Linked DNA regions of Homo sapiens. The protein of the gene in region 3 interacts with the protein of the main gene of each other region in a biochemical or structural test. Each region holds a gene or a part of one and is shown on either strand. Other genes may lie near its edges.

Region 1 (7,028 bases), on a different chromosome or scaffold from region 3:
GTCACGTAAGCTGGAGTGCAATGGCATGATCTCGGCTCACTGCAACCTCCGCCTCCCGGGTTCAAGCTGTTCTCCTGCCTCAGCCTTCCGAATAGCTGGGATTACAGGCGCCTGACTAATTTTGTATTTTTAGTAGAGATGGGGTTTGACCACGCTGGCTAGGCTGATCTCGAACTCCTGACCTCAGGTGATCCGCTTGCCTTGGCCTCCCAAAGTGCTGGGATTACAGGCATGAGCCACCACACCTGGCCTAGTGCAATGTTTTTATGACAAAATGTAACATTTTGATCTAGCCCAGGAGTGTCCAATCTTATGGCTTCCCTGGGCCACAGTGGAAGAACAGCTGTCTTGTGCCACACATAAAATACACTAATGATAGCTGATGAGCTTAAAAAAGATTGCACAAAAAAAAATCTCATAATGTTTTAAGAAAGTTTACAAATGTGTTGAGCTTCATTCAAAGCCATCCTGGGCCGCATGCAGCCTGTGGGCTGTGGATTGGACAAGCTTGATCTAGCCTGTAGATCAAGAAATTCTGGAATATTTAGAGAAATATGGAGGTGAAAGGTTTTTTGTTCTACCTTAGGGAAAATAGAAGATAAGAAGTCTTAGAGAATCATTAAAATTGTCAACATCAAAGACTTTAGCATTATCAGAATGAGATTTTCTTGTTCAGGGTGTTCTGCATCTTAGGAAATGCCTTTGGCCTGGGATGGAAATACTACTGAAAAATCCTAACTTGAAGAAGATAACTAGAAATGTAGTTTATCTCAGGTTCCAGTGACTTATAGGAAGCTGAAATACAATGGAGAATTACTGGTAATAATATATGGAAAACTGAAATCATGCATGATGCAGAAATCTTGTGCACAGTGACTGAAATTGGAGGCCGGAGAAGACACAGATTCAAACCCAGGGCCAATAAATGTTCACGAAAAAGCTAAGATGCCTTAGACATAGATTTCTATTTATTAATAATGTTATAATGAGTTTTTAAATTTTTATGTATTTATAGAGTCAATATCTTGCTTTGTTGCCAGGCCGGAGTGCAGTGGTACAATCATAATTCACTACAGCCTTGAACCCCTGGGCTTCAAGTGATCCTCCTCTCTCAGTCTCCCAAGTAGTTAGGACTACACCCATGTGCCACCATGTCCAGCTGATATTTTTATTTTTTGTAGAGACAGGATCTTGCTATGTTGCCCAGGCTGGTCTCCAACTCCTGAGCTCAAGCAATCTTCCTGTGTAAGCCTCCCAAAGCACTGGGATTATAGGCATAAGCCACCGTGCCTGGCTTGTGATGAGTTTTTTTTAAAGCACAGTGACTATGCTGAAAAAAACACTATTTCTTCTAGTAAATAATTAAAATAGAGTTCATTAAATTTATGTGCATCTATTAAGATACATATATCGATTTGTATGCTTTTACATTTAACCAACTTCTTCAGTTAGCCAACTCTGATCTGGGTCATGTTTTGTGTAAAATTTCAGTCCAGCAGCTTCCAGGATGGCTGGGGAATTACTGTAAGCAACAAACTCAGTCAACCTGCACATCAGTCAGTGCCATAGATTTCATAAATAACACGTTTCAAATATACATACCATTTAAAAGTATATTTAGGTGGTATAAGGATTAATAAGATACTAATAGAATATTATTTAATTTGTCGTAACCTTTTTGCCATTGTCTATTTTCTCAAATAATGAATTCTAAAAAATGCCAGACTTAATAGGTCTTAGGTTTTTCTTTTTCAGGCTCTGTCAACAGACTCAATAGAAAGACTCCCAGTGTATAACAAAGCTGCCTGGAAGCATTACAACACCAACCACGAGGCTGATGACTGGTGCGTCCCCAGCAGAGAACCCAAAGACATGACGACGTTCCGCAGTGCCTAGACACACTTGGGACATCGGAAAATCCAAATGTGGCTTTTGTATTAAATTTGGAAGGTATGGTGTTCAGAACTATATTATACCAAGTACTTTATTTATCGTTTTCACAAAACTATTTGAGTAGAATAAATGGAAACTGAATTCCATTTGTGCCCGTTAAACCTCCTAAAGGATGAAATTGCACCTATTTTACACTTATATTTTCACAGTTAATTGAACATATTTTTAAACAACTGTAGTTTTGGGCAACTTTTCACTTTGTGGTAGACTTCAGAAGTGTGGAAATCTTCGGGTTTCTATAGGAAACTAGTTTTTTTTTTTTAAGAAATACTTTCATTTATGTTTGCTAGAAACATTTTCTAAATGATAGTGATTAGCTGGTTAGCCATCTTCCTGTTATTTGGAGGAGTTCTGCCATCTTTTATTCGGTAGTGACAGCTGTAATATGGTCTTCATGTTTATCAGTGACTTGACTACAAGTAAAGCAGAAAACAGTTGGCCTGTAATCACAGAACCAGCCACCCTTCGGCGTCTACATGCATTGTCTTAGCTCTGAGGTTAATTTACCATTTTTAAATTTTATTGTAAAGAAGTGTAATGACTAGCTCTCTGTGGATCTATGCCAAAATCATGGGCCATCTTTTCTAAGTGTACTTCTGATTAATGCAAGGGGAAATTTTTATACTGAAAACAAACAAACAAACTAGCAGCTACTAAAATAGAGAAGAAATTGAGGGCAAAGTAATATGTCTCCAAAACTGAACTGATTGCTTGTTGAGATTACCTAGAAAGCTTTTGGAAAAAAATAGAGCTTTTCTGCATCCTACTCCAGATACACTGAATCGGAATCCCTAGGGCTAGAGCCTAGAAATCTCACTTTTTAAAATGCTTCCAAGGTAAGTCTGATGCCTACCCTAGGTTGGGAACCACTCTTTCAAAGTAAACAGTGATGACACAGCATTTGCTAAAGTAACATCTGTAGGTTTTGGTTTCCACCTATTTAAAGTCAGATTTATAGACTCGAGGAGACAGAAACTGAATCCCACACCTGGTGCAATTAGAAGCATAATTAGAAGCAGAAGAACAAAATGCCACGTAACCAAAGCATCAGAGCCATCATTGCACGTGTCTTTTTTTCTTTTTTCTTTTTTTTTTTTCAAGACAGGGTCTCGCTCTTTTGCCCAGGATGGAGTACAGTGGCATGGTCAAGGCTCACTGCAGCTTCAATCTTCTGGGCTCAAGTAATCCTTCCACCTCAGCCTCCCATATAGCTGGAACTACAGTTGTGCACTACCACACCCAGCTAATTTTTTGATTTCTTGTGGAGATGAGGTCTCAGTATGTTCCCAGGCTAGTGTTGAACTCCTGAGCTCAAGAAATCCTCCTGCCTGAGTCTCTGAAAGTGCTGGGATTACAGGCGTGAGCCACCACACATGGCCTATTGCACAAGTCTTGACAAACAACATATATTTTCTAAAACTATCCAGATTTCATTATCAGGGAAAAGTTTGCTTAGGTTTATTACAGCAGTCCTTGGCATTTGTATGGTAATTTGTACTTTACAAATACTTTGATATATTATAACTCTATTGGTCTTTGAAACAAAGCGATACAGTGTAGGTGGTATCATTCTCTTTCTCACTCAGTGTGGCCCAGAGTTGCTCAGAATTGGAGCAGAGCCTGAGACGTATCTGCAGATCCTGTCATCAGCTGGCAAGTCCAGGAGACTGTGTCATTTAGAGACTGTGTTGTTAGTTATCCCTCAACATCTTCTAAGGTGGCAGGAAATAATATTGGAAATAACATTTTAAAGTAAAAATTTTAAAGTTTAAAGAAGAGTTTTGCCACTTAAACAGGGGAGCTTTGTCTGGAAAATACACTGAGTTGAAACACTTCATCCTTGGAAGGATTATATAAGATGAACAGTTGTGATAAATGTGTAGATTAGAGGGATGTGAATGGGCAGTTAGTCCAGTGCCCTCATTTAAGAGGCCAAGATCCTGATTCAGAGGAGGCATCCTTTGCCCAGAGCTGCTTAGCTAATCTGACCAAATGTTGGGAAAAATGTCTCACCTAACCCACTATTCCTTAATTATGGATTTTGTGAAAAACAATAGAACATGTTAATGAGTAATTTATATTAGTTCGATGTATTACAATTTTTTAGCTTTAAATTACAGTTTTCTTATAATGTTGAAATGTTTTAGAATCCTTTGAATCTAAGTATTTGTTTCCTAAATGAAACATTTGTACAACATTTGATGTTTTTACTTATGAAATATTCTCCTCCCCCAAGAAAATTTAAACTTTTTCTCTCTATTTAAAAGCTAAGAAATGTTTTAAAGGAAAAATGAAATTATCTTCCTTTAGCTTATTTTTAAGGTAAAACAGCTTTTTACTCTGTTATTGTGGTAATGGACAGAATATTACATACAAAAATATTCTGGGAGAGCTTTTTCCTAGTTGGTTTTAAATCATTGTGCCACCTGAAAGGTTTTTAGATTTTATAGGAGCTAATTTGTCCACCAGCATTAATGTAACACAGTGTAGTTATGAAAATATATTGAAGGACAGGAAGTGGACACGAAGTGATTTTTGTAACCTGAGCAGTTAATGAATGTGCCAACATTTTCTAGGAAGGGACAGCAAGAATATTCTGCTCTGTAGTTAAAATACTGGCTGGCTTTTGATGTCTTCATGCTTAATTGTGATCACTTTCTTGCACTGTGATGTTTTTACGTGAATATGTTGAAGTAGAAGTCTACCATATTATTTTATAAAATGTTTTCTGTATGGCAATAAACTGAAAACATGGATCAACCCTTCTTTTGAAAATAAACTGAGTCAATTTAGCCTTTTAAAAATATAGTCATCTCTTTTAAATAGAATCCTCTTCCACCATCAAGGCTCAACATTTTGTAAGCATCCAAAAAATTGGTAATTAGGGGGCTTGCACTAAATTTCACTATCTTCAGTAGAGAGGAACTGTTTGGAACTTAGATTTCCAATGTGTATATTCTAATGGAGAAAGCAAGAGGTAGAGTTTGTATGTTTGACTTACCTTAGATTTTTATTTTCCATACATACTGCAAATGATTGACTTGTTGCATAAATGAAGATCTTCTGTTGTGTGCTTTTCAAACACTGTAAATAAATTTGAAATTTGAATAACTTTCCACAGTATAACTGTAAAAAAAAAAAAAAAAAGTCTTAATTTAACCAGCATTACCCTCTGCTTGTACCAATTGAATGGCAGAACTACTATAGTCAAAAATAAATTCCTATCCTATTTTTAATTGATGGGATATAGGCAGCACAATTTCCCTTCATTGTTGAAGCCAACAAGTTCCGTAACAGAACTCCAGAGGTAAATAGCTGGGAAAACTGTTAGTTTTAAGGTCCCACTGTTGCTCTGTGAATGACTAATCAGAGGAAGCCAAAAATCAGCCAACTAATTTCAGTTTATGTCTTTAATTGTGATGTAAGTGTGAAGTTTCTACATATGGGTAATCAGGGTTGAGTTAGGTAGTTTGCAAACATGACTTTTGCTGGAGGAACTTTTAATCATGTCTTATTAATTTCTGGTCCCAATAATTAATTTTCTTACAGTCAAACCCAATGCACTTGAAAAATAATATAATTAATACTGTGTGAAGAATTTTTTGCATGTTAAAAAAAGCAAACCACTAGTTTGCTTAGTTCTGGCATTCATAAACTACTGTACCTTCTGTTCTATTGACATGTTTGGAAAAAAGAATTGAACATATGTACCACCCCCCTCTTTCTAGAGTCTCCACAGTTCTTTAGCAATTGCTAACCATAGGTTTTTAATAGCAAAAGACAAGATTGTCAGTTTTTGGTGCAAAACTCTACTCTTTTTGGTTGACTTGGAAAAGCTGTTGTTTATATTGGGAATTGTGACAGCTGTCTTTTACTTTGTTAAATTAGCAATTATTTAGCAAAAATACAGAGTTTCACCCCAGTAAAATAAACTTCCACGTGAGAGTTGTGTTCATTCAAGGGTTATTTTTTGAGAGTGGAAGTACATTTCCTGCATTTGTCACAGATAATATCAGAAATTTTGTTGTTTTGATTAAAATGTTGCCATCTACTTATAAGTTAAAAATGCTGAGAAGGTTTTTTTTGGAAACAGTTTATGAGGCCAGGACATTTTTAAGTTTGACTCAAATATAAAAAGCCACAGTATTCTTGCCATGGTTTTGTACTTAGATGTCTCTCATTATGGAATTCAGAATGTGACAGTTATAGTACTACATGAAAATACTTAATATAGAGTTCTACAGTTACAGTATTGCATGAAAATACAGTATGGTATGAAATTATTTGTCCAAAACTGTACTCCAGAAATGGAGCCCATATGATTATATAACTATAAAATAGGATGGGACAGAGAAAAATATGTCTGTATTACAGCATAAACATATCTGGTTTAATATGAACTATTTCTTTTCATCTCTTTACTCTCAGTATCTCCATAATGGCCAGTATGTAGTAGGCACCTGTAATTGTGAAGCAGCCTCATTGTCTGGGGTAAATACCAAGGTTCTTGGTCTCATGGCCAAGGAGATCGAGGTCGCAGACACACACAGTTTGGAGCAGGAGTTTAATAGGCAAAAGGAAACAGCTCTGTTACAGAGAGGGGTTCCGAGCAGGTTGCCAAGTTGTAGTAAAAATGTCAGGGTTTTTATAAATGGGCTAGTGAGGAGGGGGCTCATGAGGAGGGGATATCTTATCCTCCTAGGGTCCGAGGACGCTTTAGTTGGGACCAGGTGTGCTATCTGTACAGAGCATAGCTTTTTATCAGCTCTTATCCCATTCCTTGACCACATAGGCTCTTAGACTCTTATTCTATGTTGTCTTCGTCCAGCTTATCTGGAAGGGAGAGTTTCTCTGTCTGTTCCCATACATCTTGCAGCTGCAGGCATCCCCCCGGTCTGCTTTTAGCTTCCTTATCTTAGTGCCCCTAAAGGGAAAGGAATGTGCTTATTAAGGGCCACTGTTTTACTGGGGTTAACTGCATGAGGTCAAAAAGAGCTATATTTGAGCTGCTGTTTGTTAAAAGAAAAGTTTTCTGCCGGGGACTCGCTTTACCCTGTCTACCTAAATTCTTTCTG
Region 2 (7,028 bases), on a different chromosome or scaffold from region 3:
CTCTGTCACCCAGGCTGGAGTGCAGTGGCACGATCTCAGCTCACTGCAACCTCCACCTCCCGGGTTCAAGAGATTCTCCTTGAATTCTCCTTGAATCTCAGCCCCTCAAGTAGCTGGGACTACAGGTGTGTGCCACCATGCCCATCTGCTTTTTGTATTTTTGATAGAGACAGGGTTTTGCCATGTTGGCCAGGCTGGTCTCGAACTCCTGACCTCAGGTGATCCGCCCACCTTAGCCTCCCAAAGTGCTGGGATTACAGGCGTGAGCCACTGCACCTGGCCAAGCTCCTGCATTTGTAAGTGATGTATCATATATATAGGCTGTTTTTAGCTTTTGGGGTTAATGTAGGATAACCAGGGACACAATCTACAAAAGCAAAGTCTAGAATTCTTTTTGCTCTGTTACACATTGTTGCCTGTTTTTAGCATTATTTTCCTTAATTACATTCTTTTGCTACGTATTATAGGTGTTTACATTTCCTAAAGATCTCATTGTGATAGAGCAAGGATTATTAGTTGGTAGGTGAGATAATAGTAAATATAGCATATAAGGCTGGGCTCGGTGGCTGACACCTGTTATTCCAGCACTTTGGGAGGCTGAGGGCTGAAGGATTGCTTGAGCCCAGGAGTTAAAGACCAGCTTGGGCAATATGGTGAGACCTCGTTTCTACAAAGATTAAAAAAAAAAAAAAAGTAGCTGGGCATGGTGGCTTGTGCCTGTAGTCCTGGCTACCCAGGAGGCTGATGTGAGAGAATCACTTGAGCCCAGGAGGGTCTGTGCTGCAGTCAGCTATGATCATGACCACTGCACTCTATCCTGGACAACAGGGTGAAACTCTGTCTCAAAAAAAAAAAGGATATAAGACACATTTGAAGAGCTTTAAATATATCTGCTCCATCCATTTTTTTTTTTTTTTTCCTGAGACGGAGTTTCGCTCTTGTTGCCCAGGCTGGAGTGCAGTGGAGCAATCTTGGTTCACCACAGCCTCCGCCTCCTGGGTTCAAGTGATTCTCCTGCCTCAGCCTCCCAAGTAGCTGAGATTATAGGCATGCACCACCACGCCTGGCTAATTTTTGGTGTTTTTAGTAGAGACGAGGTTTCTCCATGTTGGTCAGGCTGGTCCCAAATTCCCGACCTCAGGTGATCCACCCGCCTCAGCCTCCCAAAGGGCTGGGATTACAGGCATGAGCCACCACGCCTGGCGTTTTTTTTTTTTTTTTTTTTTTTTAAGACAGAGTCTCACTCTGTTGCACAATCTCGGCTCGCTGCAACCTCTGTCTCCTGGGTTGAAGCAGTTCTTCTAGCTCAGCCTCATAAGTATCCGGGACTACAGGCAAATACCACCACACCTGGCCAGTTTTTATATTTTTAGTAGACAAGAGTTTCACTATTTGGCCAAACTGGTCTCAAACTCCTGACCTCAGGTGATCCACCTGCCTTCATCTCCCAAAGTGCTGGGATTATAGGCATAAGCCACATCACCTGGCCCTGCTCCATCATTCTGATACATGGCTTTAGTAGATTTTGTCTTAGCCTTTCGTTGCCCCTTCTTTGTCAGCCACTGTTCCAGGGACTTATTGTCACTAATGAGAGAACATAGCGTCTGTCAGCTGTGGCATGGTAGAAAAAAGGTTGAGAATGATTGCTGTGGAGAGTGTGTTCAACCATAGAGGGACTCAGTTTTCTCATCATGAAAATTATGTGTAATTTAACTATATATTTTAGGTACCTAAATGCTATTTTAGGTATATCAAGCACAAGAACCCATTATAGAGAGTGGGTTTTTTCATTGTATTTCTGAGACTCCTCTCTTAGAATCATCTCTACCCGCATATCGTGTTTTCTTTTCTTCCTACAATTTTAGTACAGAGGAAAATCCCAAGAGAGAAGATTATTTTGGAATCACAAATCTTGTTGAACATCCAGCCCAGCTCAATCCTCCAGGTAATGTATAGATTCCTGAATCAAGTCTCTAGAGCAGCATTACCCATTGGAAATTTATACAGTGAGGAACATGTTCTGTATCTATGCTGTTCAATACAATAGCCACTACCCATGTGTAATTCTTTTTTTTAATTCAGTTTTTTTCCTGACAATAGTTTGTTGTTTGACCAGTGAACATACATTTTAAGTGCATATTCCTGTGCTTAGAATTTCATGAGACAGCCAAGCATGGTGGCTCATGCCTCTAATCCAAACACTTTCGGAGGCCAAGGCAGGAGGATTGCTTGAGGCCAAGAATTCAAGACCAGTCTGGGCAACACAGTGAGACCCATCTCAAGGAAAAAAAATTTGGCTGGGTATGGTGGCTTATGCCTGTAATCACTGCACTTTGGGAGGCTGAGGTGGGCAGATTGCTTGAGCTCAGGAGTTCGAGATCTAGGCAACATGGCAAAACCCCATCTCTACAAAAAATAAAAAATCAGCCGGGCATGGTGGTGTGCATCTGTAGTCCCAGCCTCTTGGGAGGCTGAGGTGTGGAGGATGGCTTGAGCCTGGGAGGTGGAAGTTGCAGTGAGCTGAGATGGTGCTGCTGCACTCCAGCCTGGATGATACTGCCAGACCTTGTCTCAAAAAAAAAAAAAAAAAAAAAAGAAGAAAGAAAGAAAGAAAAAAACCCAAAATTTCATGAAGCTTTACATTTACAGTTCCCTGGTTGTTCCTAGGAAAGAGCCCTCAGCTTGCTCCTTTTATAGAACCACATGTTGTTGTGGCATCCACAGCTAAATGCAAATGCAAGAGCCAAACTCTTGGGTTGGTGTGTTATTAGATGCGATATGCTCCACTACCCACTGTGAGGGATGCTAATTCCAAAGGGCTTTTTGTTAGTTTCCCAAAGTTGAAACTGGGAAACAAAGTTGCTTCTATTTTTTTTTTTTTTTTTTTTTTGAGGAGGAGTTTCGCTCTTGTGGTCCAGGCTGCAGTGCAACGGCATGATCTCAGCTCACCACAACCTCTGCCTCCTGGGTTCAAGCAATTCTCCTGCCTCAGCCTCCTGAGTAGCTGGGATTACAGGCATGTGCCACCACGCCCAGCTAATTTTGTATTTTTAGTAGAGACAGGGTTTCACCATGTTTGGTCAGGCTGGTCTTGAACTCCTGACCTCAGGTGATCTGCCAGCCTTGGCCTCCCAAAGTGCTGGGATTATAGGTGTGAGCCACCGCGCCCGGCCTTTTTTTTTTTTTTGAGTTGGAGTTTCGCTTTTGTCACCCAGGCTGGAGTGCAATGGCACTATCTCCGTTCACTGCAACTTTCACCCCCCTGGGTTGAAGCTATTCTCCGGCCTTAGCCTCCGGAGTAGCTTGGATTATAGGTGCCTGCCACCACACCTGGCTAGTTTTTGAACTTTTAGTAGAGACAGGGTTTTGCCATGTTGGTCATGCTTGTCTTGAACTCCTGACCTCAAGTGATCTGCCCACCTAGGCTTCCCAAAGTGCTGGGTTTACCGGCGTGAGCCACCGCACCTGGCCCTAATTTTGTTTTCTACATTTGCCAGGTATCATTGAATGAGGGGGTTTAACAGCTTAAAGGAAAACAACTAAGAACACTACTTAAGAAAGATAAGAGGCCAGGCGAGGTGGCTCATGCCTGTAATCCCAGCACTTTGGGAGGCCGAGGCGGGCAGATCACGAGGTCAAGAAATCAACACCATCCTGGCTAACAAGGTGAAACCCCGTCTCTACTAAAAATACAAAAATTAGCCAGACGTGGTGGCGGGTGCCTGTAGTCCCAGCTACTCAGGAGGCTGAGGCAGGAGAATGGTGTGAACCCAGGAGGCAGAGCTTGCAGTGAGCTGAGATTGCGCCACTGCACTCCAGCCTGGGCAGCAGAGCGAGACTCCGTCTCAACAAAAGGAAAGATAAGAATGTTTTTTAAAAACATAGCCATATTGCCGGGCACCAGGCCTGAACTGATTTTAATCTTACTGATCCCTTATTAACGAGTTTTCTTCATTTTCTATTTAAAGTTTATACACACACACACACACACACATGTTTTTTGAAATGGAGTCTCGCTGTGTTGCCAGGCTAGAGTGCAGTGGCAAGTGGCACAATCTCGGCTCACTGCAACCTCCACCTCCCGGATTCAAGTGATTCTCCTGCCTCAGCCTCCCGAGTAGCTGGGACTACAGGTGCGTGCCACCACGCCCAGCTAATTTTTGTATTTTTAGTGGAGTCAGGGTTTCACCATGTTGGCCAGGCTGGTCTCGATCTCTTGACCTCGTGATCTGCCCACCCGTGCCTCCCAAAGTGCTGGGATTACAGGTGTGATCCACCGCACCTGGCCTCAATATATTTTTTACATAAAATGTTTATAATAGAGTTGGGTCTCACTTGGTTGTCCAGGCTGGTCTCGAACTCTTGGGCTCACGCCATCCTCCCACCTTGGCCTATCAAAGTGCTAGAATTACAGGCATAAGCCACTGTGTCCAGCCTAAAGTTTCTTTTAATGATATTGATATTTACCTAGGTTTCTTTAATATTTTTATTGCTGTCCGGGCCTGGTGGCTCATGCCTGGCCAACATGGTGAAACCCCATCTCTACTAAAAATACAAACATTAGCCAGGCATGGTGGCGTGTGCCTGTAATCCTAGCTACTCGGGAGGCTGAGGCAGGAGAATTACTTGAACCCAGGAGGCAGAGGCTACAGTGAGCTGAGATCGTGCCATTGCACTCCAACCTGGGTGACAGAGTGAGAGAGAGAAAAAAAAAAAATATATATATATATATATGTATTCTTACTGCTTTGGTATACTAATATCTCTGCCTGACAGTTGACAATGACACACCAGTTACTCTGGGAGTATATCTTACCAAGAAGGAACAGAAAAAACTTCGGAGACAAACAAGGAGGGAAGCACAGAAGGAACTACAAGAAAAAGTCAGGCTGGGCCTGATGCCTCCTCCAGAACCCAAAGGTGCATTTCTCAGTGGCCTCTTCTGTTAAAAAGAGTGGCAAGTTTATGTCTTTAATCCTGGAGGAACTTTAACATCTCTGTGTTTGAGTGATTTCTGTTTCTAAGAATTATTCTTGGGGTCCTTTTTCTCCAAGTTTTCTACCATCTTTTCATATTAAGATAGGTCAACACATTCATTATAGAGGCCATTTATGGCTTATTTTTAAGCATACTGATCATACAACACTCTGGTTTTCCTGGAAGAATACAGGTCTTGAAATTCATGGAGATAGTAGTTGCAGTATTTGCGTAGACTTTTTATGTACATAATTCTTAATGTTTTAATTTTTACAATGAAAGTACAGGATAAAAAACTTGACCCTGTAGTTACATTCTCGTTCAGCAGTATTTTGACTGAGCACTATTATTTATAAGCTCTTTCACTAGATGCTGTGATCAGTGTGAAAAATATGAAAGGAATTAAGTTCCACGTCCTTCATAAATTTTCAGATAATGTAAATGCATACCAATCTTCAACTTAATTGTGTGAACTTCTGCAAATGCTGAAGTGATTGGATGGGATTTTCAAGATAGGAGTTATTGGAGGAAGTGAGTTTAGAGCAGAGATTTGAAATAGGTAAATAATATGAATTGGTATGGAAGAAATAACAAGTTACTCCAGCTGGAGAAGTGACTTCAAAGACTGATTGTTGTCCTCTCTTCACTGCAGTGAGAATTTCTAATTTGATGCGAGTATTAGGAACAGAAGCTGTTCAAGACCCCACGAAGGTAGAAGCCCACGTCAGAGCTCAGATGGCAAAAAGACAGAAGTAAGTGCCATGGGATTGGGTGGAAACCTCGGGCAAGTACCTTTCCCAAACTCTTCTGGGGGGTCCATATTTGGAGGGAGGGGAGAGTTCTCCGTTGCTCTCTCTTTCCCTCAGCCCTGCCTCTGATCTTCAATGCCTTTCTCACTTGTGGATGTCCTTCCTGTCACGACAGAGCGCATGAAGAGGCCAACGCTGCCCGAAAACTCACAGCAGAACAGAGAAAGGTCAAGAAAATTAAAAAGCTTAAAGAAGACATTTCACAGGGGGTACACATATCTGTATATAGGTAGGTGTCCATACTGGGCCAAACTTCCCCTTAGAATTACTAAAACATTTTCCAAGTGCTTGAGGCAGAATCATTGTGGCCTAAAAGCATACCTAACACCAGTTCCTACTCTCTTTTAATGACCCTAGTGTGGATCAAGAGCTAGTAAATCTTGTAAAATAGCGAGAGTTAATGACTTATGTTTATGGTTACCCAGTTCTTCCCTCTCAAGTCTTCTTTTTTTTTTTACCAGAATATTAGTTCTGAACAAGTCAATATACTTGTTCAGGCCAAGATGTGAACTAAAGATTGTATGTCCTTTGAGAACTATAAAATATCATCCTATTTCTTTTTTTTTTCATCTTTTTTTTTTTAAATGGTCTGAGTTTGCTTCCAACATCCATGGAAGCATTACAAATTTTCTTTCCTCCGTAGTCATATCCTTACCCTGATGTATTGCTGTGTTTCATCCTCACTCCAAAATGCATTTTATATGTTGTAAATATTTTTCTACCTTTGTGTTGATTTAATGTTTTTATTCTTTTATGTTGAGTACATGTGTATCTTCTATTTTTAAAATGTGCTTATTTCTATTAACTAGTTCTTTATTATAAAAGTGGTACATTATCACAAAAATAGTGAATGCTTATTAAGATTTAAAAAATTGTCTGACAACACAGAAGAATACTTACTCAAAATGTCTCCTTTCTATTCTCTGATCCCTTAGAACCACTCTCTTTAGGTAATTGCTATTAACAGTTTTTCACATATCCTCCTAGAAAATTTTCATGCCTATATAGTGATCCTATATATATATTTTATTTATTTATTTATTTATTTTGAGACGGAGTTTCAGTCTTGTTGCCCAGGCAGGAGTGCAATGGCGCGATCTCAGCGCACTGCAACCTCTGCCTCCCAAGTTCAAGCAATTCTCCTGCCTCAGCCTCCTGAGTAGCTAGGATTACAGGCACGCACCCCCACGCCCGGCTAATTTTTGTATTTTTAGTAGAGATGGGGTTTCACCATGTTGGCCA
Region 3 (7,028 bases):
CTCGGCCTCTCAAAGTGCTGGGATTACAGGTGTGAGCCACTGCGCCTGGCCTTGTGTGTACATTTTTGGAACTCCTTTGGTCCTTAAAGGAAAACTGAAGTGGGTGGTGTTTCTAACCCATTTTCAGAAAGAGCATTAGTTTAGTGCTGTTCATGTCAAGCAAAACAGTGTAACCAAACTGTCTGCCTGGAGTGGGACTTCTGTAAAGATCATTATGAAATTAATGACTTGTGGCCGGGTGCGGTGGCTCACGCCTGTAATCACAGCACTTTGGGAGGCCGAGGTGGGCAGATTACCTGAGGTAGGGAGTTTGAGACTGTCCTGACCAACATGGAGAAACCCTGTCTCTACTAAAAATACAAAATTAGCCAGGTGTGGTGGCACACACCTGTAATCCCAGCTACGGGAGACTGAGGCAGGAGAATCACTTGAACCCGGGAGGCGGAGGTTGCGGAGAGCCGAGATCACACCATTGCACTCCAGCCTGGGTAACAAGAGCGAAACTCTGTCTCAAAAAAAAAAGAAGTTAATGACTTGTTTATTAGCAAACATGATTTTACCCATGAAAAGACTCCATTTAGACTGAGTGTGGTAGCTCATGCATGTAATCACAGCACTTTGGGAGGCCAAGGCAGGAGGATCACCTGAGATCAGGAGTTCGAGACCAGCCTGGCCAACATGGTGAAACTCCATCTCTACTAAAAATACAAAAAAATTAGCTGGGCCTGGTGATGCATGCCTGTAATCCCAGCTACTTGGGAGGCTGAGGCAGGAGAATTGCTTGAACCCAGGAGGTGGAGGTTGTAGTGAGCCAAGATCATACCACTGCACTCCAGCTTGGGCAACAAGAGCGAAAACTCCGTCTCAAAAAAAAAAAAAAAAAAAAAAGAGGCCAGGTGCAGTGGCTCATGCCTGTAATCCCAGCACTTTGGGAGGCCGAAGTAGGCGGATCACCTGAGGTCAGGAGTTTGAGACCAGCCTGCCCAACATGGTGAAACCCCGTCTCTACTAAAAATACAAAAATTAGCTGGGAGTGGTGACAGGTGCCTGTAATCCCAGTTAGTCAGGAGGCTGAGGCAGGAGAATCGCTTGAACCTGGGAGGCAGAGGTTGCAGTGAGCCAAGATTGTGTCACTATACTCCAGCCTGGGCGACAGAACAAGACTCCGTCTAAAAGAAAAAAAAAGAAAGACTGCATTTAAATAAGCATTTTGAAACCACTTGTTTTCTTTCTTTTATTCACTCTTTGAACAATCATTTCACTTAATGGATGCATACCCTGGGCCAGACTCTCTGTGCCATGTGGGGCCTGGGCCCTGCTCTTGCTCTTGTGACAGTGTTTTTTAGTGGGTATTGCATATGCCCCAAGTGGAAGGACCATAAAAAAGATTAAGGAAGCAGCTGCAGAAATTTATAATCTCAGCTTTTCTGCTACAGTAAATTTCTGTCTCTCTCTAGGTATCTTATTGACAGCCGGTGGTTCAAGCAGTGGAAGAAGTATGTGGGCTTTGACAGCTGGGACATGTACAATGTGGGTGAACATAACCTATTTCCTGGCCCAATAGACAACTCTGGGCTATTTTCAGGTATAGTAAATGTTGCTTTTCTAGCTAAACATTCACCTGGGCAGTGGCCTGATGTTATGTGCATCTGTAACATGGACGTTGTGAACTTTCCTAGTGTGAGGAGATAGAAACAAGTATCCTCATTTTGCATCTATAGCAGAAGTCTTTGCAAACCCTTAATGAGAAGTTAAGCTACTTTTTTCCCTTAAATTAACTGCATCTGATAAGAGTATGCTTCTAACATTTTAACTTTCTCTCTTTGCAAATTAGTTCTGCTAGCTATTTCACATTTTAAGTTAGTATATGGAATGGAAAGAAATAGGATGTCATTTTGAAATTGTATCTAAAATTTAAGAACCAGAATTTTTTGTTACCTTTGCAGTGGAACAAATTGTAAACCTGTGAACTTTCATCAAGAATTCCTGTGATGGCTGTTTTTATCATATAACTAGTGTGAGGAGAGGTTGAAGGTCAGTAGACAGAGTTATGACTGTAGTCAGCTCCCAATGGGAACTGTGGGAAAAGCGACATGTAACACACTAGAGCTTGCTTGCACTTGTACATGCACTGAGATGACAGAGTCAGCTTTTCCCAGGCTTTCTTTTGCCTGACTTCAGACCTCTTTAAAGTCATGATAGAGGTGATCTGTCATGGGTGTCAAAAATCAGGGCAGTGCCAGGAGTGGTGTCTCACGCCTGTAATCTCAGCACTTTGGGAGGCCAAGGCAGGTGGATCACCTGAGGTCAGGAGTTCGAGACCAGCCTGGCCAACATGGTGAAACCCCGTCTCTACCATGTTGGCTAGGCTGGCCTTGAGCTCCTGGGCTCAAGCTATCTTCCTGCCTCAGCCTCCTTAGTCACTGAGACTACAGTGTTCTACCACTCTCAGCTGTTTTTTAAGTTTTTTGGTAGAGACGGGGTCTTGCTATGTTGCCCAGGCTGGTTGAACTCCTGGCCTCAAGCCATCCTCCCACCTTGGCTTCCCAGAGTGTTGGTGTGAGCCACTGTGCCTGGCCTAACTTGGATATTTTTAAAACTGAGCAATGCTTCAGCTCAGACCTTGTTTTAGGAGAGGTCTACATGGTATAAACAATATCATTTACTTTGTTTCCTGAAATAGGTCAAATGGTGGCACTATGCCACGAAGTTGCCCTAAGGAATCATTTCATTATGTTCACATTTTGTTCTTTTTCTCATTTTTATGAAATGGAGAATTCTTAAGGTTTTAAATTCAGGCATACTTTGGCTTATTGTGCTTTGCTTTATTATATGTTGCAGATACTGCATTTTTAGCAAATTTTGTAGGTATTTGGCAACGCTGCCTTGACAATCTGTCAGTTCCATTTTTACAACAGCATGTGCTCACTTCATGTCTCTGTTACCACATTTTGGTAATTCTCAAAATACTTCAAAGTTTTTCATTATTATTTGTTATGGTGATCAGTGATCAGGGAGCTTTCTTTTTTTTTTTGAGACGGAGTTTTGCTCTTGTTGCCCAGGCAGGAGTGCAGTGGCATGATCGTGGCTCATGGCAACCTCCACCTCTTGGGTTCAAGTGATTCTCCTGCCTCAGCCTCCCGAGTAGCTAGGATTACAGGCATGTGCCACCACGCCCGGCTAATTTTGTATTTTTAGTAGAGATGGGGTTTCTCCATGTTGGTCAGGCTGGTCTTGAACTCCCGACCTCAGCCTCCCAAAGTGCTGGGATTACAGGCATGAGCCACCATGCCCAGCCAACAGGGATCTTTCATGTTGCTATTGTAATTGTTTTGGGGCATCATGAAGGGAGCCCATGTAAGACAGTGAACTTAATTGGTAATTATTGTGTGTATTCTCGCTGCTTCACCAACCAGCCATTCCATCTCTCTCTCTCTCCTCAGGCTTTGCTATTGCCTGAGACACAATGACACTGAAATTCGGCCACTTAGTAACCCTAACAACGTCTTCTAAATGTTCAAGTGAAAAGGAGAATTGCATGTCTCTCACTTCAAATCAAAGCTAGAAATGATTTGAGTTTGGTTAAGGAAGCCGAAATAGGTTGTAAGCTAGGCCTCTTGTGCCATATAGCTAGCCAAGTTGTGAATGTAAATGTAAACCTCCTGGACTTAAGTGATCCTTCCACCTCAGCCTCCTGAGTAGCTAGGACTACAGGTGCTTGCCAGCATTCCTGGCTCATTTTTGTATGTGTTTATTTTTTCTTTTTGTAGAGATGGAGTTTTGTCATGTTGCCTGGGAGATGGAGGAACCCAGGAAATGGTGGTTTCAGTGAGCTGAGATTGCGCCACTGCACTCCACTCCAGCTTGGGCGACAGAAGTGAGACTCCATCTCAAAAAAAAAAAAAAAAAGTGCTACTCTAGTGAACACATGAATTATAAGAGGCTGAAACAGCCTTATTATTGCTGATATGGAGAAAGTTTATTCATTTATTTTTTTTTTTGAGACAAGGTGCCATCTTGTCTCAAAAAAAAAAAAGGTAGCTACTGCTACCTCGTGCAGTAGCACAATCACACCTCACTACAACCTTGACCTTCCCAGGCTCAGGTGATCCTCCCATCTCAGCCTCCTGAGTAACTGGAACTACAGGCCCCACCACACTCGACTAATTATTGTATTTTTTGCAGAGATTTTTTGTGGGTTTTGTCATGTTGTTCAGGTTGATCTTGAATTCCTGGGCTCAAGCAATCCTCCCGCCTTGACGTCCCAGAGTGCTGGGATTACAGGTGTGAGTCACTGTGCCCAGGCTAAACAACAGGTTTTATTTTATTTTATTTTTATTTATTATTATTATTTTTTTGAGACAGAGTCTCACCATGGGGTTTCACCATGTTGGCCAGGCTGGTCTCAAACTCCTGACCTTAAGTGATCCGCCTGCCTCGGCCTCTCAAAGTGCTGGGATTACAAGCATGAGCTACTGTGCCTGGCCTAAACAACAGATTTTAAATGTAGACAAAACACCCTTCTATTGGGAAGATGCCATCTACCTCTTTGCTGCTAGAGGGGAAAAGTCAGTGCCTGGGTTCAGAGCCTTTTTTTTTTTTGAGACAGGGTCTTGCCCTGTCACCCAGGCTGTAGTGTGTGATCACAGCTCACTGCAGCCTTAACCTCCTGGGCTCAAGTGATCCTCCCACCTCAGCCTCCTGAGTAGCTAGGACTACAGTTGCTTGCCACCATGCCTGGCTGATTTTTATATGTTTGTTTGTTTGTTTGTTTTGTAAGACAGAGTCTCGCTCTGTCGTCTAGGCTGAAGTGCAATGGCACAATCTTGGCTCACTGCAACCTCCACCTCCCAGTTTCAAGTGATTCTCCTGCCTCAGCCTCCCAAGTAGCTGGGATTACAGGTACCTGCCACCACACCCAGCTAATTTTTTTTTGTATTTTTAGTAAAGACGGGATTTCAGCACGTTGGCCAGCCTGGTCTCGAACTCCTGACCTCAGGTGGTCCACCCGCCTTGACCTCCCAAAGTGCTGGAATTACAGGTGTGAGCCACTGTGCCCAGCTTTGTATTTTTTTTTTTTTTTTGTAGAGATGGGATTTTGCCGTGTTGCCCGGGCTGGTCTCCAACTCCTGGGCTCAAGTGATCTGTCTGCCTTGACTTCTCAAAGTGCTGGGATTATAGGCATGAGCCACTCTGTCCGGCCAGATTCAGAGCCTTGAAGGACAGGCTGACTCTCTTCTTAAGGGATACTGCAGATGGTGACTTTAGTTTGAAGCTAGTGCTCATTTATCATTCCAAAAATCCCAAGGCCCTCAAGAATTATGCTAAATCTGCTCTGCCTGTGCCCTACACATGCAACAACAAAGCCTGCATGATAGCATATTTATTTACAGCATGGTATACCGAATATTTTTGTTTTTATTTTATTTTTCTGGGACAGAATCTCGCTGTGTCGCCCAGGCTGGAATGCAGTGGTGCAATCTCGGCTTACTGCAACCTCTGCTTCCCGGGTTCAAGTTATTCTCATGGCTCAGCCTCCCAAGTAGCTGAGATTACAGACATGCACCACCAGTTCTGGCTAATTTTTGTACTTTTAGTAGAGATGGGGTTTTGCTATTTTGGCCAGGCTGGTCTCAAACTCCTGGCCTCAAGTGATCCACCCGCCTTGACCTCCCTAAGTGCTGGGATTACAGGCATGAGCCACCACAACAAGTTTACCGATTTTTTTTTTTTTGAGTCGGAGTTTTGCTCTTTTGCCCAGGCTGGAGTGCAATGGTGCGATCTTGGCTCACCACAACCTCTGCCTCCCAGGTTCAAGCGATTCTCCTGCCTCAGCCTCCTGAGTAGCTGGGATTATAGGCGTGCGCCACCACGCCCAGCTAATTTTGTTTTTTTAGTAGAGACGGGGTTTCTCCTTGTTGGTCAGGCTGGTCTCGAACTCTCGACCTCAGGTAACTGCCCACCACGGCCTCCCCAAGTGCTGGGAGTACAGGTGTGAGCCACCACGCCCGGCCTCCCAATATTTTTTTTTTTTTTGAGACGGAGTCTTGCTCTGTCACCCAGACTGGAGTGCAGTGGCGCGATCTCGGCTCACTGCAAGCTCCGCCTCCCGGGTTCACACGATTCTCCTGCCTCAGCCTCCTGAGTAGCTGGGATCACAGGCGCCTGGTGCCTGCCACCACACCCGGCTACTTTTTTTGTATTTTTAGTAGAGACGGGGTTTCACCATGTTGGCCAGGATGGTCTCAATCTCCTGATCTCGTGATCCACCCATCTCGGCCTCTCAAAGTGCTGGGATTACAGGTGGGAGCCACCGCGCCCGGCCTCCGGCCTCCAGCCTCCAGCCTCCCAATATTTTTAGCTCAGGGTTGAGACCTACTGCTCAGAAAAAGCACTGAGCTAATCTTATCAAAATGTTACTGCTGCCAGGTGCAGTGGCTTACGCCTGTTATCCCAGCACTTTGGGAGGCCAAGGTGGGCGGATCACGAGGTCAGGAGATTGAGACCATCCTGGCTAACATGGTGAAACCCTGTCTCTATTAAAAATACAAAAACAAAATTAACCGGGTGTGGTGGCGGGTGCCTGTAGTCCCAGCTCCTCGGGAGGCTGAGGCGGGAGAATAGCATGAACCCGAGAGGTGGAGCTTGCAGTGAGCCGAGATGGCGCCACTGCACTCCAGCCTGGGGGACACAGCGAGACTGTCTCAAAAAAAAAAAAGTTACTGCTCCATTGCAATGTACCTAGTTACCCAAGAGCTCTGATGGAGATGCATGAGGAGATTAATGTTGTTTCATGCCTACTAAAAACATCCGTTCTGCAGCCTGTGAGTCAAGAAGTAATTTCAACTTTTTTTGTTTGTTTGTTTGTTTGTTTGTTTGTTTTGAGACAGAGTCTCACTCTGTTGCCCAGGCTGGAGTGCAGTGGCTCAGTCTTGGCTCCCTGCAACCTCTCCCTCCCAGGTTCAAGCAATTCTCCTGCCTCCTCCTACCAGGTTCAAGTAATTCTCCTGCCTCAGCCTCCTGAGTAG
Region 4 (7,028 bases), on a different chromosome or scaffold from region 3:
GATATGTAAATAGAGACCCATTAGGAAGCCATTACAGCAGTCCAAACAAGCAACAATAGCTACGAGGGCAAGGTCAATGGTAGTGCAGAAACTGGGCAGATCTGGGAAATGTTTTAGAAGTAGAGTCAATAGGGTTTGCTGATGCTCTGCATCCAGGCAGGACAGGTGTAGAGGAAAAGAGCTGAATCAAGGAAAACACCTAGACTGGACAACAGTTTACTGAGGGATAAGAATGATGCAGATTTTTTTTTAATAACTCAGAGTTTGGTTTTAGTCATATGAAGTTTAAGATGCCTACTGGATATCCAAGAGGAGATATCAAGTAAGAAGGTAGAAACGTGAGTGAGAGGATCTATGGAGAAGTCAGACAAAGAGATACAAACTTGGGAGTCATTAGCATGTAGTCAGTTTTTCTAGTCAATCAGTTGGAAGAGGTAACCAAAAATAATATGGAGATAGTGGAGTAGAGGAACTGAGCTTTGAAGCAGTTCAACATTTAGATCACAAGAGAGGAGAAGGAATGGGCAAGGAACAGGAAGGAACAGTCAATATGGTAGCAGGCAAACTAGGAGAGAGTCAGAGAAGCCAAAAGAAAAAGACGTTCCAGAAGGAAAGCAGATATAAGGACAGTGAAAGCATATGCCAGTGGCTCTAAAAGTGTGGTCTCCGGTTCAGCAGTATCAACATCACCTGGATATTTATTAGAAATATAAATTCTCAGGGTGCAACCCAGAATTATAGAGTCTGACGGTAAGGCCAAGCAATCCATGTTTTACCAAGCCCTCCAGGTAGTTTCAATGTTTGAAAATCACTGCATTCAAGGCTAATCCATTAACAACAGATAATAAGGCAAGATATTTCAGTGGAAGCCATCACACAGACCAGAGAGCTCTCCCTTGCTGTTTATATTATTTGTGGAAGCTTTCCACAGCACCCATATGTCATCTTGGGCAGGAGAAAGGGAAAAGGAAAATCCTTATGGGGGAAGACTGAATTTTGAAATAACCGAATTAATCTTGAAATTTCTGAGTACAAAGATACATAAAAGAGGTAAGTATTACATGGAAATTATCCTTGTTGTGGCAAGATTAAATGCTTTTCTCTACTGAGTTGAAAAGAGGAATGACTCATAATTAAACAGTAGTTTATAGAAAAATAGTTACATTTCTTAACTTTTAAAAACAAGTAAGAAATACCGGCAGGAGGACAGGAGTTTGTTTTGTTTTGTTTTGTTTGTTTTTTTGAGACAGGGTCTCACTCTGTTGCCCATGCTGGAGTGCAGTGGCGCGATCTCAGCTCACTGCAGCCTCTGCCTCTCTGGCTGAAGTGATTCTCCTGCCTCAGCCACCCCAAAGTAGCTGGGATTACAGGCTTGTGCCACCACACCCAGCTAATTTTTGTATTTTTAGTAGAGTCGGGGTTTTGCCATCTTGTCCAGGCTGGTCTTGAACTCCTGAGCTCAGGCGATCTGCCTGGGTTGGCCTTCCAAAGTGCTGGGATTACAGGCGTGAACCACTGCACCTGGCCAGAGACAGGAGTTTTGTGCTTTAAACAAAAAAGAGTATAAGCATATATCCATAAGAGTAGAAGATAGAATAATCAGATGATATATACAATGGATAAAGTTGTTTCCTGGTATATTTTGCTCTCCTTCCCCCCATTCTGATATTAGCTCTCTAAGGGAGAAGTCTGAATGGGAATTAGAGGTGGCAGAAGGTGCTACGTAGCATAAAAAAAGCTTCCCAGGGCATTCCAATATACTTCTCATTCCTTTCTTCAAGAAATAACATTTTAAAGAAATGCAATTTTATTATCTGTATAACGATAATGCAACCTTATATTTAACAATATATTACAACTTGTAAAGCTCTTTCTTACAAATATGATGGAGTTTGAGTGTCACCATAAACCCATGAATATATAGGATTTTTTATTCCTACCTTAGAGAGAAGAAAACCAAGGCTCCAAGAACTGAAGTTACCTATTCAAGGATCATGTAATTAGTAAATCAGAGTCAGCTTTCAGGTATGTTTCATGGTGCCAACAAAACAGAGGCCTGCCAGGATTTGGTCCAGTGCCTGGTACAGAGAAAAATGCTACTCAAAGGCAGCAAGTATGATAACTAACAACAATTAACTTTTCAAAAGATTATATTCGAATCAGATTTTAGCTGTTTAGAAGGGGGTTTTAAAAAGCCCTAATCTCCTTTAAGAAAAGAGTGAAGTTGGGTTAATAGAAGGCTTGTGTATAAAGGGCTTATGGCAGTCTCCAAAGATGGCTGTCAACAATCCCTTCTCTGCCTGTCTCTGCTTAAGAGTTCTATTTTAGCCTCCTTCACTGATTCTTCCTTCCTCTGTCCAAACCTTAGATGTTGCTACTTTCCAGGGTTCTGTCCTTGGCCCTTTTGTTTCTGAATCTGTTCTCTAATCTCATGGATTCATACTCTCAAATCTCTCCCATCCAGGTTTTTTGCCCAAGCTCAAGATATATTTAAAACTGCCTTTGAGACTAAGGGGTCCTACAGGCTTATTAAGTTCAATATGTCAAATACTGACTCCATTATCAGTCCCTCACTTGTGTATATTGTAGTTTACTTGACCTTAGTTAAGTAGATTTACAGATATTATCTCATTTTAATTAAGTCAATTCTCACATTTTAGAAAGGTTTTATTTAGAAAGTACTTATTGCAACTTGAGCCATGATCAAATGATAGTATGAAACCTTTCATCTCCCATTGTTTAAAAATACCGACTTCATACATACACACTGAAAACTGAGTATACAAAATAGAAAGTGTTTTGTTTTACCAGTGGGAGACAGACAAACAAAAAATTGTGGACACCACCGCTCCAACAGGAAACGCTGGTTAAGAAAGTTCATTACTGTCTGCACTCCACCTCTCAGGCTATGTAAAACAGCACTCCACTGACTGGGGAAAATCTTACATGTGTATAGATTTTTAAAAAATATATCACATATTTCTAAGAAAATGTTTCAAATGCAAATATCTTGGTAACAAATTTCCTTATTGTATTAATCAAGAACATAAAATCGTGGAGAAGATCAGATGTAGAATAATAGTATGTCTGGACTGCAAAGGCCAAGCCTAAAAACACATAAGGAGATTATGTACATTATTAGATAAGGAATGAGCCAATGTTACAAACTACAGAAAGCAAATTTGATATTTTTCTTGACATATGGTAGATCAACAGAAAAAAAGTGGCATAGATGGCCACTCTTGAGACATACTGGCAACTGAGGTAAACAATGAAAAAACTTAATATTCAAGTTGTAAACCACTGAAAGAAGGCCACTTTTTATTTACTACCAAATTTCTAGTCCAAGTTCACAAATCAAACGTGCTTTCTGAACCGTATTCTTTTCTGAATAATACAGTTTATTTGACACACTGTAATTAACAATTAGGTTTTTTGTTTTTTAAAATTTTTTATAGAGACAGGGTCTCACTATGTTGCCCAGACTCGTCTCAAACTCCTGGCCTCATACAATCTCCCACCTTGGCCTCCCAAAGTGTTGGGATTACAGGTGTGAGCCACCGTACCTAGCCCAACATTATTTTAAATGACTGTTTTTTCCCCAAAGATGAATTTTCATCAAGAGTAAAAAAGAGAACATATCAAGTTACAAGTATTTCCCCATCACACACATCCAACTAAAATGGTGACATACAAATAAATATTTCAGATATTCTTCATAATCCTTCATTTGTAAAAAACAGAGGAATGCAAAAAGGACTTTGGTTTTAAAAGGGAGGTCAATTTGGAAATATTTCCTTCTAAATTTATGAATGTTTTCTAAATCAAAATGTTTTTGATTAATTACTTTATGATAAGCATTTCTCCCCCTATGGTTGAAACCTCTTTGTTTTGGGTCTACAACTTTAGTCTCATACAATTAAGTAGATTTAAATTTAATTTCTTAATAAAAAATACAGAAGAATATGAGATGGTATATAGAACATTTCCATGCAACTACTATTGAAAGGCACAAAAACAAAAATCAGGTTTTGTGTGTTTGTGTGTTATTTTTAAAGAAATTCCTTTAAAAATTAATTTCTTTATGATGTAAGATGACTCCATTCCTTCAGACAAGTCATGTTAAAGAAAACAACCAAACACACACCTAACCTAAATGGAAAAGGATGTATGCCTTTGTGCTCTTAATTTATTATTAAATAATTCTTTTAATTGTTCTGAATTCATGTTATTTTTAGTTCAGTGACTACAGCTGTCAGTTTCATTTGGCCCTGTTCTATGAACTATCTGAATGGACCCCTGGTGATGCTGGCATTGTTCTGGCTGGAAATGCGGAACAAGACAGAACAAGCATAGATCATACATTTATTAGTTAGGACTTGGAGCCTCCAACTATGTTAGAACTTCAATATCTATTAATAAACTGTGGCAGAGTGGAACTGCCATCTGCTGACAAGATGGATTTGATAACATAAAAGTAAAGCTTTGATTATTCAAACTTTCTTCTGAATGTTTCATGCAGTCTTTTAATACCTGCCACAGTACATCTCACCCATTTTCTAGGCTTTTATTTCAAATAATATGCTCATGCTATCTTTTAAGCTACACGTGTACAATGCAAAAATTATCTCTGTAGCTACCTCTTAACTATAGTAATTCCAGATTTCTACTGAAATCAGTGGTCACTTTCACATGAAAGAATGTATTGATTATTTTAGGTATCCATAATTAAATAGTGACTAACAAATCTATGTACTCAGTTTGTTTAGACCACTATAAATTAGGTTTTTCTCTAATACCAATTCCCCATATATTTATAACTTAAACCTACAAAGTACATATAACTGTTTAAGTTCTATCTATATCTCCTCTTTGTAGCATATTTTAGCTTTTAAAACAAAACTTTTGTGTGTCTCCTTAACAAAGCTGAAGAATATATACAAATGCTGCAGTAATTTTATGTGTCCAATACTATAGCTTTGTTCCTACACTATAGTTGAGGTCAGCATTATGGGTCTCCCTTTTCAAAAGCAACCATTGTAAATAGTGTCTTTTTAGCACTCTGTAGTAAAGACCTACCATACGTGGCTTACTCATAGCATCTGGCCCTTTACAGCATTTTTTATCCCTGCTAAACAAAAGTATCTGCTAACTATAATAGAGTCGACATTAAAACAAGACTCGGATCTCATTTCTAACGTGTTGCCTTAGCCAAATCGCATAACTCAGCTCCTATTTTATCACATGTAATATAAGAGAACAAGATGGGCATTTAATTCTTATGATTATGCTGTGATACTTTCATGTACTCATTGAACAAATATGTATAGAGAACCTTCTAGGTTCTAGGCATTGGGGTTACAAAAGTGAATAAAGCGCCTTACATTTTGCTGAAGGAGAGACACAATTTCAGTTACTGGTAAGTACCATGAAAGATAATAGAAATGACAAAAGATCTAGGTTGTTCAGGGAATGCTTCTCTAAGGAAGTGTTAATAACATTTGAGGTGGGACTTGACTGGTGAGGAGTCAGTCATCTTAAGTTATGGGGGAACAGCGCTTTAGGCAGAGGAACAACTACAAAGAAAATTCATCTTAGTGACTTTCCCAACCCACGATGGTCACTTTATTCAAAACCTAGTTTTAAACTTGTCCCTACTCAATGGAACCTTCTGTGATTAACTCTATTTTCAAATTATGGCTTAAGTGTTTAATTTACACTATATTCAGTTTTAAATTTGTGGTCTATAGTTAACTGTTCTGTGTTTACTCCAGTCTGATATCATACTAAGTCAGACATTTTAAGGAGGTAATCCTAGGATTCTTCTATCATCTTTTTTTTTTTTTTTTTTTTGAGACAGAGTCTCCCTCTGTTGTCCAGGCTAGGGTGCGGTGGCATGATCTCAGCTCACTGCAACCTCTGCCTCCTGGGTTCAAACGATTCTCATGCCTCAGCCACTCAAGTAGCTGGGATTACAGGCCTGTGCCACCACACCCAGCTAATTTTTGTACTTTCAGTAGTGACGGGGTTTCTCCGTGTTGGCCAGGGTGGTCTTGAACTCCTGGCTTCAAGTGATCTGCCCGCACTGGCCCTCCAAAGTGCTCGGATTACAGGTGTGAGCCACCGCACCAAGCCCTATTTATCTTTTATAGTACCTCAGAGTATTACGCACAGATGAGAATGTTCATTAAATGCTCAGGACCAACTACACTAAAAAGGAAATCAGTATTTTGTTTCCCCTTTCCCATATTAGGTTTGGTTATAGAGTACTTCAGAAAGTACTGAGTGACACTGTAAATCCAGTGGAAAGGGCAACTGACTCACAAGTGAGAAGTCTCATATTCAATTCCCAGCTTTACCATTTACTTAGGCATGCGGCTTCTGGCAAGTCAAACTCTATGACTGCTTGTCAATATCTGTACAATGGGATATCATTTGCCCTGTCAACCCAGGATTAGTTGGTCACCAACTGAATTCTATAGGAGACCATGATCAGTCTTTAAAGAACTGCTAAGCTTACTATAGAAAACAGTTAAATACTGGAAAACATGAATGTGTTTTCATTTTAGAACTGGAAAAGACCTTAAATGATCTTGTTCAGTCAGTTTACATGAGTAACCACAGGCCCAGAAAAATGTGGTGACTTCCTCAAAGTTACAAAAATATATTATGGCAGAATCAGTACAGCATCTAAATTTTCTTTTTCAGTCCAGAACACTTTCCACTATACTACCCTGTGTAACACTTCTTGCAACCCATCCCCTCTTTTATTCCAACATTCTCTACAGCCAGTTCTAGATGGTAAACACTAAATGATGTTTAAAAAGTACCTAGGCAGATTTCTGAGGCTGAGACCTTACCTAATTTGACTGAATTGAATTGAATCTAAGATGTGCCAAACTAATACTACTGAGTTACAATATTAGAAATGCAAGATCAGCTAATGTCTTAGAAATATGTATCTACTAAATGGCTGCATATTTGGCCTGTAGTTGAATTATTATTTTTTTTACAGTTTCTAATTATAT

Evidence for each region.
Region 1: of the proteins of USP4 (region 3) and PDK1, one has a biochemical effect on the other in vitro, tested with the Homo sapiens proteins (one study listed by BioGRID).
Region 2: the proteins of USP4 (region 3) and PRPF3 form a complex in vitro, tested with the Homo sapiens proteins (one study listed by BioGRID).
Region 4: of the proteins of USP4 (region 3) and MAP3K7, one has a biochemical effect on the other in vitro, tested with the Homo sapiens proteins (2 studies listed by BioGRID).

What each region holds. Positions count from the first base shown.
Region 1 is NC_000002.12:172,594,074-172,601,101, forward strand, and holds part of PDK1 ([Pyruvate dehydrogenase (acetyl-transferring)] kinase isozyme 1, mitochondrial isoform 2 precursor), read left to right. Parts: intron 1-1,755; coding exon 1,756-1,896; 3' UTR 1,897-7,028. UniProt on the Homo sapiens protein: Kinase that plays a key role in regulation of glucose and fatty acid metabolism and homeostasis via phosphorylation of the pyruvate dehydrogenase subunits PDHA1 and PDHA2.
Region 2 is NC_000001.11:150,338,533-150,345,560, forward strand, and holds part of PRPF3 (U4/U6 small nuclear ribonucleoprotein Prp3), read left to right. Parts: intron 1-1,865; coding exon 1,866-1,945; intron 1,946-3,497; coding exon of another isoform or gene 3,498-3,511; exon of another isoform or gene 3,512-3,620; intron 3,621-4,776; coding exon 4,777-4,920; intron 4,921-5,629; coding exon 5,630-5,729; intron 5,730-5,843; exon of another isoform or gene 5,844-5,901; coding exon 5,902-6,015; intron 6,016-7,028. UniProt on the Homo sapiens protein: Plays a role in pre-mRNA splicing as component of the U4/U6-U5 tri-snRNP complex that is involved in spliceosome assembly, and as component of the precatalytic spliceosome (spliceosome B complex).
Region 3 is NC_000003.12:49,330,026-49,337,053, reverse strand, and holds part of USP4 (ubiquitin carboxyl-terminal hydrolase 4), read left to right. Parts: intron 1-1,457; coding exon 1,458-1,585; intron 1,586-7,028.
Region 4 is NC_000006.12:90,577,048-90,584,075, forward strand, and holds part of MAP3K7 (mitogen-activated protein kinase kinase kinase 7), read right to left. Parts: intron 1-7,028. UniProt on the Homo sapiens protein: Serine/threonine kinase which acts as an essential component of the MAP kinase signal transduction pathway. Plays an important role in the cascades of cellular responses evoked by changes in the environment.